Homo sapiens: one gene and its partners. The protein of the gene in region 2 purifies or fractionates together with the protein of the main gene of each other region. This does not show direct contact. Each region holds a gene or a part of one and is shown on either strand. Other genes may lie near its edges.

The links. Proteins that work in one complex are often made in the same cells at the same time.
Region 1: the proteins of DDX46 (region 2) and ELAVL4 purify together in Homo sapiens (co-immunoprecipitation; one large-scale study listed by IntAct). This does not show direct contact.
Region 3: the proteins of DDX46 (region 2) and NAA30 purify together in Homo sapiens (co-immunoprecipitation; one large-scale study listed by IntAct). This does not show direct contact.
Region 4: the proteins of DDX46 (region 2) and SMIM20 fractionate together in Homo sapiens (co-fractionation; one large-scale study listed by BioGRID). This does not show direct contact.

The regions. Positions count from the first base shown.
Region 1 is NC_000001.11:50,192,420-50,195,919, reverse strand, and holds part of ELAVL4 (ELAV-like protein 4), read right to left. Parts: intron 2,156-3,500; coding exon 2,002-2,155; intron 360-2,001; coding exon 134-359; intron 1-133. UniProt on the Homo sapiens protein: RNA-binding protein that is involved in the post-transcriptional regulation of mRNAs. Plays a role in the regulation of mRNA stability, alternative splicing and translation.
Region 2 is NC_000005.10:134,782,779-134,786,278, reverse strand, and holds part of DDX46 (probable ATP-dependent RNA helicase DDX46), read right to left. Parts: intron 3,335-3,500; coding exon 3,214-3,334; intron 1,914-3,213; coding exon 1,738-1,913; intron 815-1,737; coding exon 693-814; intron 1-692. UniProt on the Homo sapiens protein: Component of the 17S U2 SnRNP complex of the spliceosome, a large ribonucleoprotein complex that removes introns from transcribed pre-mRNAs.
Region 3 is NC_000014.9:57,393,586-57,397,085, forward strand, and holds part of NAA30 (N-alpha-acetyltransferase 30), read left to right. Parts: intron 1-3,166; coding exon 3,167-3,290; intron 3,291-3,500. UniProt on the Homo sapiens protein: Catalytic subunit of the N-terminal acetyltransferase C (NatC) complex. Catalyzes acetylation of the N-terminal methionine residues of peptides beginning with Met-Leu-Ala and Met-Leu-Gly.
Region 4 is NC_000004.12:25,927,266-25,930,312, reverse strand, and holds the end of SMIM20 (small integral membrane protein 20), read right to left. Parts: intron 2,001-3,047; coding exon 1,944-2,000; intron 1,160-1,943; coding exon 1,122-1,159; 3' UTR 501-1,121; downstream 1-500.

The sequences.
Region 1 (3,500 bases), on a different chromosome or scaffold from region 2:
GGAGTTTTGCACAGTGATTCCTGGGGGTGGAAGCTTTTACCCTTGCCCCATTTGTCAGGACCATGGGCTTCCCTGGCTCTTGCCCAGCTATGAACCCCTGTAGCAGGGCTTCTTCCTCTTTGGGCATGCCTACCTGAACCTCTGAGCCTGGTGGTGAAGTGGACCTGGGTAGCGCCGGTTGGGGGACTGGTAGAGCTGGGAGAGCAGGGCCTGGCTGGACTTCTGGCTGGGGTTGTTGGCAAACTTCACAGTAATCGGTTCCGTAGCACCGCTGGGCTTCTGGCCATTCAGCCCTTTGATGGCTTCTTCTGCCTCAATCCTCTTATCAAAGCGGATGAATCCCACCCCTCTGGACACTCCTGGGGAAAGAGAAAGAGCCTTTGTAAAGAGTGAACACACCAAACTGGTAAACATCTTTGGGAAGAGATGGGTCCTGTGGATATTGTGTGAGGAGTAAGCCCACCTGTGGTGCCAGGGCTGAGCCCAGCTCCCTGATCTCTCTCACCAATCAAAACACGTTTACCTGCATTCCTGCTATCATGGCTCTGGACTGATGCCTCCCAGCCACAGAACACAGGGCTCTCTTGCATCTGGCCCCTCTAGTCCTCTATCACTGCTCTGCCCCATCATCACCTCCCAAAAGTTACTATAACTGATCACTCACTGTCCAGTTTCTAGTCTTCTCATGTGTCCTCCACATGTAGCTAGTGTGCAATCTATTTGAAAAGTGAACTCTGACCACATGATATGCTTTAAAAACATCTTCTGTATCTCTTTTGTACTTTTTGAATTTTGTACCTTGTGCATAGTACCTATTCTTCACTGACTCCCATTCTAAAATGAATAACAAACAAACAAAACCTACAAAATACCCTTCCATGGCTCCATTCTGCACCCAGATAAAGTCCAGACTTCTTGGCACAGCATTCAATGCCTCTGGCAATCTGGCCCCAAATTCCCTATTGAGGCTCACACCAGCCACCCTGAACTGCCTGATCCTCCTCGAATAGACTGTTCTTCCTCGATTCCATGCCTTGGGATATGCTCTCCTCTCCACTTACACTGCTCTGTCCCTCCTTTTTGCTGGATACCTCTGAAACATCCTCCAAACTCCTATTCAAACATTGCCTCCTCAATGGGGCCCTCCTAGCAATTCCCACCAGGCATGGCACACCTTCTCCTGAGCTCTCAGGGGCACTTGACAGCTTCTAGCAAGTATTTGGACTCCACACTGGAGTCCTGTAAGGGTGGGGCAGTGCCTGCTTCTTTCTTGGTCTCCAGGGTCCCTCTGCACAATGTCTAGGGCAGAGCAGACTTCTGTGAAGGTTTGTCTCATGAATCACATGATAAACGTGCTAAACTATTCTCAGGGGGTGAGTTCTAAATTGGAATCAAATTGGAGGTAGGCGAAAACACCTTGTCATTAAAAGTGCAACCCAGAGTACCTGACATTTCTTACTGAGAGGTGGTGGCTGCCTTTCTTTATTATGGACAAAGAACACCAGTACCAGATCCTCGGTTCAGATCCTTGTACTGCTACTAACTAGCTTTGGGGAGTCAGATCCCCCACTTTCAACCTGTTTCCTCAAGTGTGAAATGGGACAATTCCTTCTAACTCTATAATGCTATGAATTGGAGTTACAGCTATGCATACAGGTTCTTTTCACATACAAAAGTAATGTTATTTGGTTGAGGGCTGAATCAGACTTTGAAGGTCATACAGTTCCACTCTCAGCCTGATGCCTGAATCCTTTTTACAACCCTGGCAAGTAGTTTAGCTGCTGCTAAAACAAGTCCCATGATGGAGAACTCCTACCTCCCAAGATGGCCCATTTTAAATTTGGGCAGTTGACCGATAAGAAGTCTTTCTTCCAAGTCAAAAATCTGTCTATTCATGATCCATATCATCTGCTTTAAGCAGCCATCAGCCTTCTGCTCTTATGAGTAACAGGGCTGATGACATTGATATACAAGGAAAGAAATTACAAAGAAACACTTAACCTGTGACTTGATCAACCAGGATTCGTGAGGTGATGATACGGCCGTATTGCGAGAAAAGTTGCTCCAGTTCCTTCTGGGTCATGGTTTTGGGAAGGCCGCTAACATAGAGGTTAGCATCCCTGATTGAGGCAGAGCTCGGACGGGCATATGAGACCTAGGAAAAGGCAAGAGGAGCTAATTCCATTATAGGCAATCACCCTCAGAGTAGATGCTGAGTCCACAACCAAGATGACAGCCCCTCATCTACCGTTACAACTCATGGTGTCAGTTTAAATCACTCAGTAGTTCAGATTTTTAGCTACCCTTGTAATAGTAATGAGAACCAGGAGAACAACAATAGAGGAACAACAGGAGAGTTGACAATAACTTAAAACAAATGCACAGATAAGGGTCTCTAAGTGCAGAACAAAATAGCTACTGTATGGCAGCTGTTAAATGCAGAGCTACCCACACATGGAGTTCTGAAGATTTACCTCCTGGAAGTGGGTGTATAGATGATTTACTGTATCCAACACATAATAATCTTTGAATAAACCAGAAAAAAAAAAAAAACCTCATGAAATTCTGCTCTGCACATTTCTCTCCTTGCCACCCTCCCTACCCCCATCCCCTTCTTCCTGAATACATAAAAGCAATCAGGTTCTCTGCAAGATTTTTTTATGTTCCATCCTTTGTGTTGCTCCAGTCTGTTCCCATGAGGTCTGCTCTCACCAAATGACAAAGTGCTGGTGAAATAGGGCTGAATGAACATCTGCTTGCGAAACTGGATATGTGACCTTGTCGTCACATCTGCAAGGACCAGTCGCCTCTAACTTTGAAGCAGGGCAGATAAAAACCACAACAAATAAAATGGGGGCAAGATGGAAAGGAGGGAGGGAAAGGGCAGTAGAGAGAGAGAAGAGAGCCTCACCAATGGTTATAATAAGTTCGACTTTGTAAATTTGTCCTCCCAGATCTCTCAACTGCTTTTCTTCCCCCCAAAAGCTAACACAGAAGTGTAAACAGATCTGAAATTCCATCTGCAAGAAGCCAAATCTGTAGCAGTACACATAAGCAAAGCAAACCCCAGCAGTCATTAATTTTAGACTTTCATTTACTTATTTATTTATTTTTTAAGAAAACAACATCAGACATTTGAAATATAATTTACAGCTAGTCTAACAAAAGCACTTTCCTGCTAAAGCTATTTCTGGGGTGGTTATGGCTCAGAATAGATGATGAAAACAGTCATTTCAGAGCACATCTGACAACGTTGGACAGGAAGAGACCTATATGCCTTAGCGTTTTTCAGTTGGAAGTTCTATTTAATCCATACAACTGATTCATAAGACCTATTAAGACTGTAGGGGTGAGAGTGTGTGTGTGTGTGTGTGTGTGTGTGTGTGTGTGTGTGTGTGTGCGTGCACACAAAAGCATGTGTGCAAAAGGAATTGAACACATTAAACCAGACCTTTGACATTAAGACCTAAACCTCCAGCAGTAATGTGGACCCTGCTTCT
Region 2 (3,500 bases):
ATTATATATATTTAAGGTGTACAACATGTTTGATATACATATACACTCTGAAATGATGAACACAATCAAGCTAACATATCACCTCATATAGTTACCAATATTTTCTTTTGTGGTAAGAACATGTAAGATTGGTCAGGCACGGTGGCTCACACCTGTAATCCCAACACTTTGGGAGGCCGAGGCAGGAGGATCACCTGAGGTCAGGTGTTCAAGACCAATCTGGCCAATATGGTGAAACCCCGTCTCTACTAAAAATACAAAAATTAGCCAGGCGTGGTGGCAGGCACCTGTAGTCCCAGCAACTTGGGAGGCTGAGGTAGGAGAATCGCTTGAACCAGGGAGGCAGAGGTTGCAGTGAGCCGAGATCGCGCCACTGTACTCCAGCCTGTGTGACAGAGCGAGACTCCATCTCAAAAAAGAAAAAAAAAAAACATGATGTGAGATCTACTGGCTTAGCGAATTTTCAGCACACAATATAACATTAACTAGTCACCATGCTGTACATTACATCTCCAAAGGTATTCATCCTACATAAAATAACTAATTCTTACTATTATTTTTATACTTCATTTTTTAAATGATTTTAGAAGCAATCACTATTCAAAAAACTAAAAGTAAAAGTCACTTTTACTTTATTGAATCATCCAACTTGAGAAAAGAATGGAAAACATGAATGTTTCTTATATAACTACCTGCTCACTGATTCCTGTTCCTCCGTAAACACAGACCACTCTAAGTCCCAAAGTCTTGGAAAACTTCTTACACTCTTTAGTAATCTGTAAAGCCAGTTCTCGAGTTGGAGTCATGATGACAGCTGGAAAGATAAATACATCAGTAGCCTAACCACCAAAATTCTTAAGGCTGTGCTTTATAGTGTTCAATTTAACCTTTACAATAAAGTTCAGATTGTTTCACCTAATTTTTGTTTTGTTATGCATCCCTGAAAACTATTTCAAAAGTTGTATAACAGCAGAGGTTGTGGGGAAGGATAAATATAAGCAGATTTTTAAAAACATGCTAAAAGAAGATAAATGACAGTTAAATGCCTCATCCAACCCTCAGGAAAATACTTGGTTCAAAAGAATGCAAACAGTTTTCTAATGCAAATCACAGAACAAAGAAAATCAAGTGACTCACTGTGCCACAGAAGCCATACTGCTGCTTCCAGAAACAACCTTGGTCTGAGGGGCACAGACAGAGGAGAGATATACTATGCCCCGTGTTCCTAAGAGAGAAGCTGAACAACTTTCCAAAACCCTACTCAACTTTCCAAGAGTTATCTCTGCCAAGATGAATCAAGAAACCAGAATCTAAACAAGTAATCTTGAATGAAATGCTGGCATTATAGCCTGTTAAGGCCAAAAACTACCTAGGAAAATATGTTTCCCTAGGATATCTTCCATGTCGCTTTTATATATCCACTGATACTGGGCTAACAAACCTCAATATAAATAAACAGATAGATGCACGAGGAGTCTACCTGCCAAGTCAGAGTTTAAAAACTGAGCTGTGCCAGGAGAGGCTGTTTTTGTACTTCTGAGATGTCACTCCAGAGCTCTGAAGATTCTCACTCCACCTGCTGGTAAGGGGAAATCAGCCCCAAAGTGCCAAATTGATAAAGAAAATGTACATAAAGACAACTTCATTGTCATAATTAAGAACATTATAAACTATAAGGTCTTTCTGTTTGACAACAAAGCTGTTATTTGAAAAATAGTTTAATGAAAAGAATTGTACCTATTGGCCCCTCTCCTTCCTCTAATGACCTCTGATCCATGATGTGTCTAAACATGGGCAACAGAAAAGCAATGGTCTTTCCACTTCCTGTTTTGGCAATGCCAATCAAATCTCGTCCAGACATTATAGCAGGAATAGCTTGGGTTTGGATGGGCGTGGGCTTTTCATAGCCATGCCTTAAAAAGAAAACCAAAGGAAGAAAAGGTAAGAATTGAGATTGCTGGGCCCCAGACAGGTCCTATGTGTTCCCATAAAAATGAACTTCCAAAAGGTGGTATATATCATACAATAAAATACTATTTGGCAATAAAAAGGAATGAAGTACTAACACATTCTACAATATGGACTAATCTTTACAACATTATGTAAAGTGAAAAAGATCAGGCAGTAAAGACTATATATTGTTTGATCCCATTTACATGAAATGTTAGGAATAGCCAAATCTATTCTAGAGACAAAAAATAGATTAATGGTTGCCCAGGGGTGGGGAGAGGGGAGAAGACTGACTACTAATGGACAAAAGTTTCTTTTTGGGATAATGAAAAATTTAAAAATTAGGCAGGGCGCAGTGGTTCATGACTGAAATCCCAGCATTCTGGGAGGCTGAGATGGGAGAATCATTTGGGGCCAGGAGTTGGAGACCAGCCTGGTCAACATAGCGACACCCCATCTCTTAAAAAAAAAAAAAAAAAAGGCCGGCCTTGGTGGCTCACGCCTGTAATCCCAGTACTTTCAGAGGCCGCAGCGGGTGGATCATCTGAGGTAGAGAGTTCGAGACCACCCTCACCAACATGGAGAAACCCTGTCTCTACTAAAAATACAAAATTAGCCAGGCATGGTGGCACATGCCTGTAATCCCACCTACTTGGGAGGCTGAGGCAAAAGTATCACTTGAACCCAAGAGGCGGAGGTTGCAGTGAGCCAAGATCGAGCCACAGCACTCCAGCCTGGGCAACGAGAGTGAAACTCCGTCTCAAAAAAAAAAAAAAAAGGCCGGGCATGGAGGCTCACGCCTGTCATCCCAGCACTTTGGGAGGCTGAGGCGGGCGGATCACCTGAGGTCAGGAGTTCAACGCCAGCCTGACCAACATGGTGAAACCCTGTCTCTACTAAAAATAAAAATAACCAGCTATGGTGGCACACACCTATAGTTTCAGCTACTCGGAAGGCTGAGGCAGGAGAACTGCTTGAGCCCGGGAGGCCGAGGTCACAGTGAGCGCAGTGAGATTGCACCACTGCACTCCACCCTGGGCAACAGAGCAAGACTCTGTCTCAAAAAACAAAACAAAACAAAACAAAAAAAAACCAGTTGTATAATTTAAAGGGTAAATTTTGATATATAAATTATCTCAATGAAAGTTTTTTAAAACGTAAGGGTTTTTTTAGAGTAAAAATGTAACTCAGGGAGACACTGGTGTGGAAGGACTATTTTGAGCAGCAAGACACGGAAAACATAAACAACCACCAACCACTTACTTCTTGAGGGAATTTAAGATCTTCATGGAAATTCCACACTGGACCCAGGATTTAATTGGTTTGGGGCAACCTTTTCCTTTAACTGTAATGCCCTCCATTTCCAATCGAAACACATTTACCTCTACAAAACAAAACCCAGATTAAAAGTTCTTAAATATTGTTCTATTGGTGTCTTCTACTTTTCAATTAGGCATAAGATTAACAAACTTTAACTCTTATGCCAGACCCAGCGGCTCACACCTGTAATCCTAGCAACTAGCACTTTGGGAGACAGACGCAGGCAGATC
Region 3 (3,500 bases), on a different chromosome or scaffold from region 2:
ATCCTTTTAGAACTGAAAGCCATCCTAGAGATAATCTAGCCCAACTTAGGTTTTGTTCTGTTTTGTTTTTTGATTGAAAAAAAGTTAAGAACCAAAGTGACTTAAAATGTTTCAATCTCCAGATATTTACTGACAGAGGGGTAGGTTTTGTTTTGTTTTTTGATTGAAAAGAAGTTAAGAACCAAAGTGACTTAAAATGTTTCAATCTCCAGATATTTACCGTCGGAAGGGTAAAGCTAGAACCCAGTTCTCCTGGCCTCTCATTATGGTAACAAACAAGAACCTGAAAAATGACATACCCTTGATCCATTCAGTGAAGATTATTGTGTCACCAAGTTATCTTCACCAAGGGACAGTTGCCCTTACATCAATCTCAAGAGATTAAAAACCTCCAAAATGTTCCGTTTTCCGTGGATAACCTGTAATGGGTCAATGGAGTATATGGGGTTGAACCTTACAAAATTGCCAATACTTGATTAATAAAAATGATAGCTTATTATGATTCTTCCTAATTGTAAAAGATGTAAAAAAAAAAAAAAAAAAGGACAAATGTGAGACACTTTCAGTTACTCTGTACTTAACCATTTTATCTTTACCTGTTTTCATAGTAACATTTTCAGTTGTTGGTATCTTTTTGAAGTTCTTAAACTTACTCTCAGCAAATGTAACATAGTACTTCCATTTATTTGTTCTAAATTTAACTTTTTGGCTTCCTCCAGTTTTCTATTTGTAGTGTTCTAGAATTTGGGAATCTCTCACTTTATTTTTTTCATAGTTTTATAGACTGACAACCCTTTGGCCTTGTAGTGTTAAGTCTTAATCTTGCCGGGGATTTTTCAGTTCCCATCCTTGAAAAAATACATTTAATAGCGTGAATTCCAAATGTATATGCAGAGCTTTTATTTGGAAAAATTGACAAGCAATTTAGTGATTCCTGTAAATGTACCACATATTCATGAGTAGTTTATCAGGAAAAAAAAATGCAGCATTGGTCTTCACTACTAATGTCATCGTAATGGTGTATGATATATTGGGCTTTTTAGATGATGTATACAGCTTGATTTTTGCTCCTATAGATTCTAAATTAGGAAGAAATCAGGTCTTAAGAATGAACTAATTTAATATTTTGTTTGCTTATTCCATGCTCAAAGGACAAAGATTTGTTTGAAATTCCTGTTCAGATTGAAAGTACTGTCCAGTTGTATTGTGTTTAATGGTTTTAATTTTTCCTCATTTTTGGATAGTTTTATATAAGGTGTAGCTATTCTGAGGTTTGTATCATCAATCTAATACAGGTTTTCATTTCACCTGAGCCTGGCTTATGAGGTCAGGCCAAAATTTTTTCTGGCCCTTTTAAATATACCATTTGGTCTGTGATAATTTTATGTATGTGTATGTATTTATACGTGTCTGTATATACGCACATATATTTGAAGTGAGTTTCAAATCAGAAAAAGCTTTCAGAGTTGGTCGAGGCGATTTTTGTGCATACTTCAGGTCTTTGTTTAAAAAATTTTTTTAAAAGATTGATGTATTGTGAGGGAAAAAATTAGAAATAACAATTTCAGAGGTTTATTGACCCAAAATAGTTTTGGAATGTGTGATAAACCAGAAATGAATTAGCGTGGGTTGTTGAATTTCATATTCCTTCAAAAGGATTTTTCCGACCTAGTTTAGGTTTGCATGAAATGGATTAGAATTATCTTGCTGAAAAGATTTCTCCACAGTTAAAAAAAGGCCTTTTAATCAATTTACAGAATGACAGACTAAAAAAGTCACAAATTTAAAATATGTATTAATTATAAATTGGACATTACTTATTAGTTTTTTGACTCATTTCTGCTTTTGTTGAAATAGTTTCTTCTGGAAAGTTAATTTATGGAAAACAGACTTCTTACTGACACATTATTTAAACAGTTGGAGATACTGCCCTATTTATATTTACCAGAAATACTGTGTTACTAGAACTTTTTATCAGCATTGGAATTTTTGAAAAACATTTTCAATGGTAACACTAGAAATCTTAATGAAAATGGGGGATGATTAGAATTTAACATGTAGCTTTTAATACTCTGGAAAGCTGTACGTTTTTATTAAAATAGAAATTTCTGTAAAATTAAAGCTTTTAACATAAAGCTTTGATTTTGAACTATAAATATTCTGAGAGCTTTATGACAGTTATCCACACTATCAGGAGTATCCTAAAAATGAGACTATGCTACACTTACATATATTAACAAAAACCTCTTGGGTATGGTCTAAGCAATACCTTATAAACTGTGCTTTTTCTGAAAATTTTTAATTTTTTTTTCCTGATCGAAATCTACCATTCAGGTGTAAATATGTATTATATCTGGCTTTCACTAAAACTTTATTATTAAATTTATTTTCATTTTTTTCTTTTATTGAGATGGGGTCTCACTCTGTCACCTAGGCTGGAGTGCAGTGGCACGATCTCAGCTCACTGTAGCCTCTCCCTTCCTGGCTCAAGCCATTCTCCTATCTCAGCTTTCCAAGTAGCTGGAACTACAGGTGCATGCCACCACACCTGGCTAATTTAAGTAATTTTGGTGGAGACAGGGTTTTGCCATGTTGCCCACGCTGATCTCAAACCCCTGAGCTCAAGCAATCTGCCTGCGCCTGCCTCCCAAAGTGCTGGGTTTACAGGCATGAGCCACAGCACCTGGCCATTATTACTAAATTTAACTGAATATATTTAAATTTACATTCTGCTGATGGGCAAGTTTTACAATATTTTATGTCCTAATGAATAGACTTTTTCTTTATAATCATTTTTTTTTTGCATATTTCCCCTTCCAGAACCTTAGGTCTTTGTTGCAAATAATTGTGATTTTAAGCACCTCATATGTAATCTTATAAAGTACTTGAATGTTTACCTTGTGGAATCTTGTCTTTTTTCCCTAGGCTTTAATAGTAAGCATAAAAAATTCATGTTCTAAAGAATATTGAGAAATTTTAACACTGGAACATTTAAAGGAGTTAGGGGATTTAGATTTCTGAAACTTCTGTGACTGCTGTCTTGCAAGAGTTCCCATTATCTTCCCCCGTCGAAAATGCTTACCAATGGTTGGTTGTTGTTTTCTCTGGATAATTGTGCAGTACCTGATGGCAATGTATTCTTCATAACTGTTTGTTTATTTTTAAGGCCATGGTAGGGGAGGAGTGTGTAGGTGCCATCGTTTGCAAGTTGGATATGCACAAAAAGATGTTCCGCAGAGGTTATATAGCCATGTTAGCCGTGGATTCCAAATACAGGAGAAATGGCATTGGTAAGAAAAATATTATTTTATGGAAAGAATGCCTAAGCTATTTTCATTTTTGTTGTGTTTTGAAATAAAAGACTTAAATGTAAGTATGTAGAAATGAAAGAAACTAAGGGAAGAAAATTAAGGCGGGTTTTAATTTTTAATTTCAAAATGGTATTTTTAAAAAGTTCTTAAAATGAATTTTTTCTTTATTAATGTTTTGTTTGACAGTTT
Region 4 (3,047 bases), on a different chromosome or scaffold from region 2:
TGACACAAGTGGAAAATTCCACACCTGACCTCATGTGATGGTTTTAGTCAAAAGTTTGTTTCATGTACAAAATTATTTTAACATTATATCAAATTGCCTTCAGGCTATGTGTATAAAGTATATGAAACACAAATAAATTTCATGCTTAGACTTGGGTCCCATCCTCAAAATGTCTCATCATTTATATGCAAATATTCCAAAATCCAAAAAAATCTCAAGTCCAAAACACTTCTGTTCCCAAGCTTTTCTGGATAAGGGATACTCAACTAGTCTTCTCACTTTCATCTTTGCAGCACCTAGTGAGGTACCTGGTAGAGAATCACCATTCAATATTTGTCTCAACAAATTTGTTATTTACCTCTAAAACGTTTACCTGAGTACAAACAGATGAATCGCACACAGATACCTAGTCAAATATAATGTAGTCAAATTGTACTTCTCGGCACTATAATTTTAATTGCTTTACAAAAGATGATTTACAAAAAGACACCACTGCAAAGTAGAAATAAATCATTTTAATGTCTATTTTTTCACTTCTATTAATTGATTATTGATTTCTACACAAGTGTATGCATCTAGTTTGACTTGCTTCATATTTATTTTCCAACACGGTGCAATCTTCAGCATGAGGTGCACGAAGTACCTTGTCCTCAAAGAGCTTTATCAACTCGAACATTTTCGAAGAGCTCTATAAGGCAGCTCAGCATGGCAGTTTTTTACTGAAATCTCTTATCTGGAAGATGGCAGAAGAGACCCGGACCTTCCCGAGCCCACTGGTTGCTTGTATTCATATCACAGCTCGCTTGAGTAAGTGGTAACGACAGAATAATAAGCAGATTGCTCCTCCAAACCCAGCTGGGTGAGATAGCTTCATTTTTGGAAAATCAACTGAATCATGAAAACCTTCCTAATGGTATAATTTGTTCCAGAGTTCTTTTGATACTTAAGAAGGGAAATATTAATCCTTGTGCACAGTCTTTTATTACAAGCACTCTTATTTATGGTATTACAGAGTTTTCTTCTCCAGCCGTCATTCTCTGGTGAGGTGACTGGCTGTACCCCATGCAGAATCGAAAGCATGAAGAAATCTCCTTTCTTAATCAGAGCTGATGACAGCCCTCTCATTTCCTGCCAAATGGATCAGACCACACTTTTAACCCTATGGAAAGAAACAGGAACAAAAACAGGATTCATTTTTAAATGTCCTTCCACTTTCCTCCACCCCAAACAAACAAAATGACATCAGAACTGAGCTGTGCAATTTACAGTGTAGTTTGAGATGGTGTGAGCAGGCTGCCGGAACCTTGGCATTAAATGGCCAGGAAGCCATGGCTGCCATAAGGGACTTTTAAATGGCTCAGGAATTGTACCCCATAGCAGGAAGACCGACATCTGGCCTAGTTAAAAAATAAATAAATAAAAAAGAATGTTGCCACAGATTATAAGAGCTTTGGTTAATAAATGAGAAACCTCTCATTCCTGGCTAACTTGGATCCTCTGAAAGGAACTAACCATTCAGCCATAAAGGGAGCTTTTTAGCCCTTGTGCAAAGCAGAACCCCACATCAATTCAAACAGCTAACAAGTAAACACTATTTTCCCATGAGGGGAGTGTTTAAATAGGTGCTTGGTAAATAAGTCTGCCAAACAGCTATTCACGTCTCATATCGAATCACGCACTTGTTAACATTTTTATGCCCACTTATAAAATGGAAAAGAGGAACCTGGCAAACGTGCAAAAAGTATTCTGGAGTGAAATATTAGAATGACGCCTTGGGTGGCATCTATAAATGGCAACTGTTGAGAAATAAATAGCAAAATCACAATCTTGTCTCTAAGCTAAAAGGCATTTTCCCACTCTCCACGCCAAGGCAAACACACACAAACCCGCACAACACAGTAGTACAAATAAGATTTGGTTTTGATTTTTTTTTTTCAGTTTACCTGGTGGCTGCACATCCTCTTGAACAATTCCAGCCCGATTTATAGCTTGTTCCTTCTCTGAGAAACATAAGAGAAAAATCATTCTTTAGAAGGGGGGCGGGGAGAGAGAAATATTTGTATTTACATGGGCCAATGACATGGGACAATTAGAAAACAGTATTTATGAGTGCTGTTAAATTCAGATACGCTATTATGCAAAGCTTTTAGGTTGTGGAAGTTAGATCCTATAATGCAAAAGAGATTGGGTATTTTCAAAAGAATAAAGAAATCCATACTTCAAAAGAAAAGCTCCCCAACTAACATCTCTTCTCTGTGATCTCAGCATTTTGGAAAGACAAGAAAACAACAACAAAAAAAGAACAATTTTGAAAGAACTGGTGGGCGTGATATCACGAGGGGAAAGCTGCTGAATTGAAGGAACAAGTACAATTAAGAAAACGATGTAGTTTATATGTCTAAAATGCACTCCACCAAAGGACTAGACTCAGAGCTAAATATGCTATGTTTTTGATAGGAAATAGAGCAGAAAATTAATCTTTGGGTGGGTGGCTTTGGTTTGGATAATTGAAGCTTCCCTAATTGATTGCAGGTGCTGCGCCAATTAGCACATTGTAGCGACAGCAACTAAGCCAGTCTCTTTGGAGATGTCCAACAGGCAAGGGCCAAGAGAAATTGGGCATTTCATATCTGTGGGCTTGAAGCACTCTGACACATTTTTCTAAGTGGTTTAGAATAAACCCAAGGTCTGTAAAAACAAAGAGTTATTATTTTAAGTATCTTGACAAACAAATGACAGCTTTTCAGGAGAAAGCCTTAGAGCCAAAGGACGTTTACCACTAAATTATAGTAATGAAATGTCATAATCGGACCTTTGTTTTAATCAGGCTGACAGTGTTTCTTTAAATCCACATTTAGCTCTTATTTAGTATCAGGCCATTTTCTTTACTTTGGCCTCTGGATTCTCATAAAGTTACACAAACGTAACGGTACAAGAAACAGGGTTTGGCCAAATCTAATATTCATTGAACTTGCTTCTCTAGTCATGTGACAGAAAGTCAATCCTAAATGACCGACCTGATAGTTTTATCAATACTAAGTTTTGCT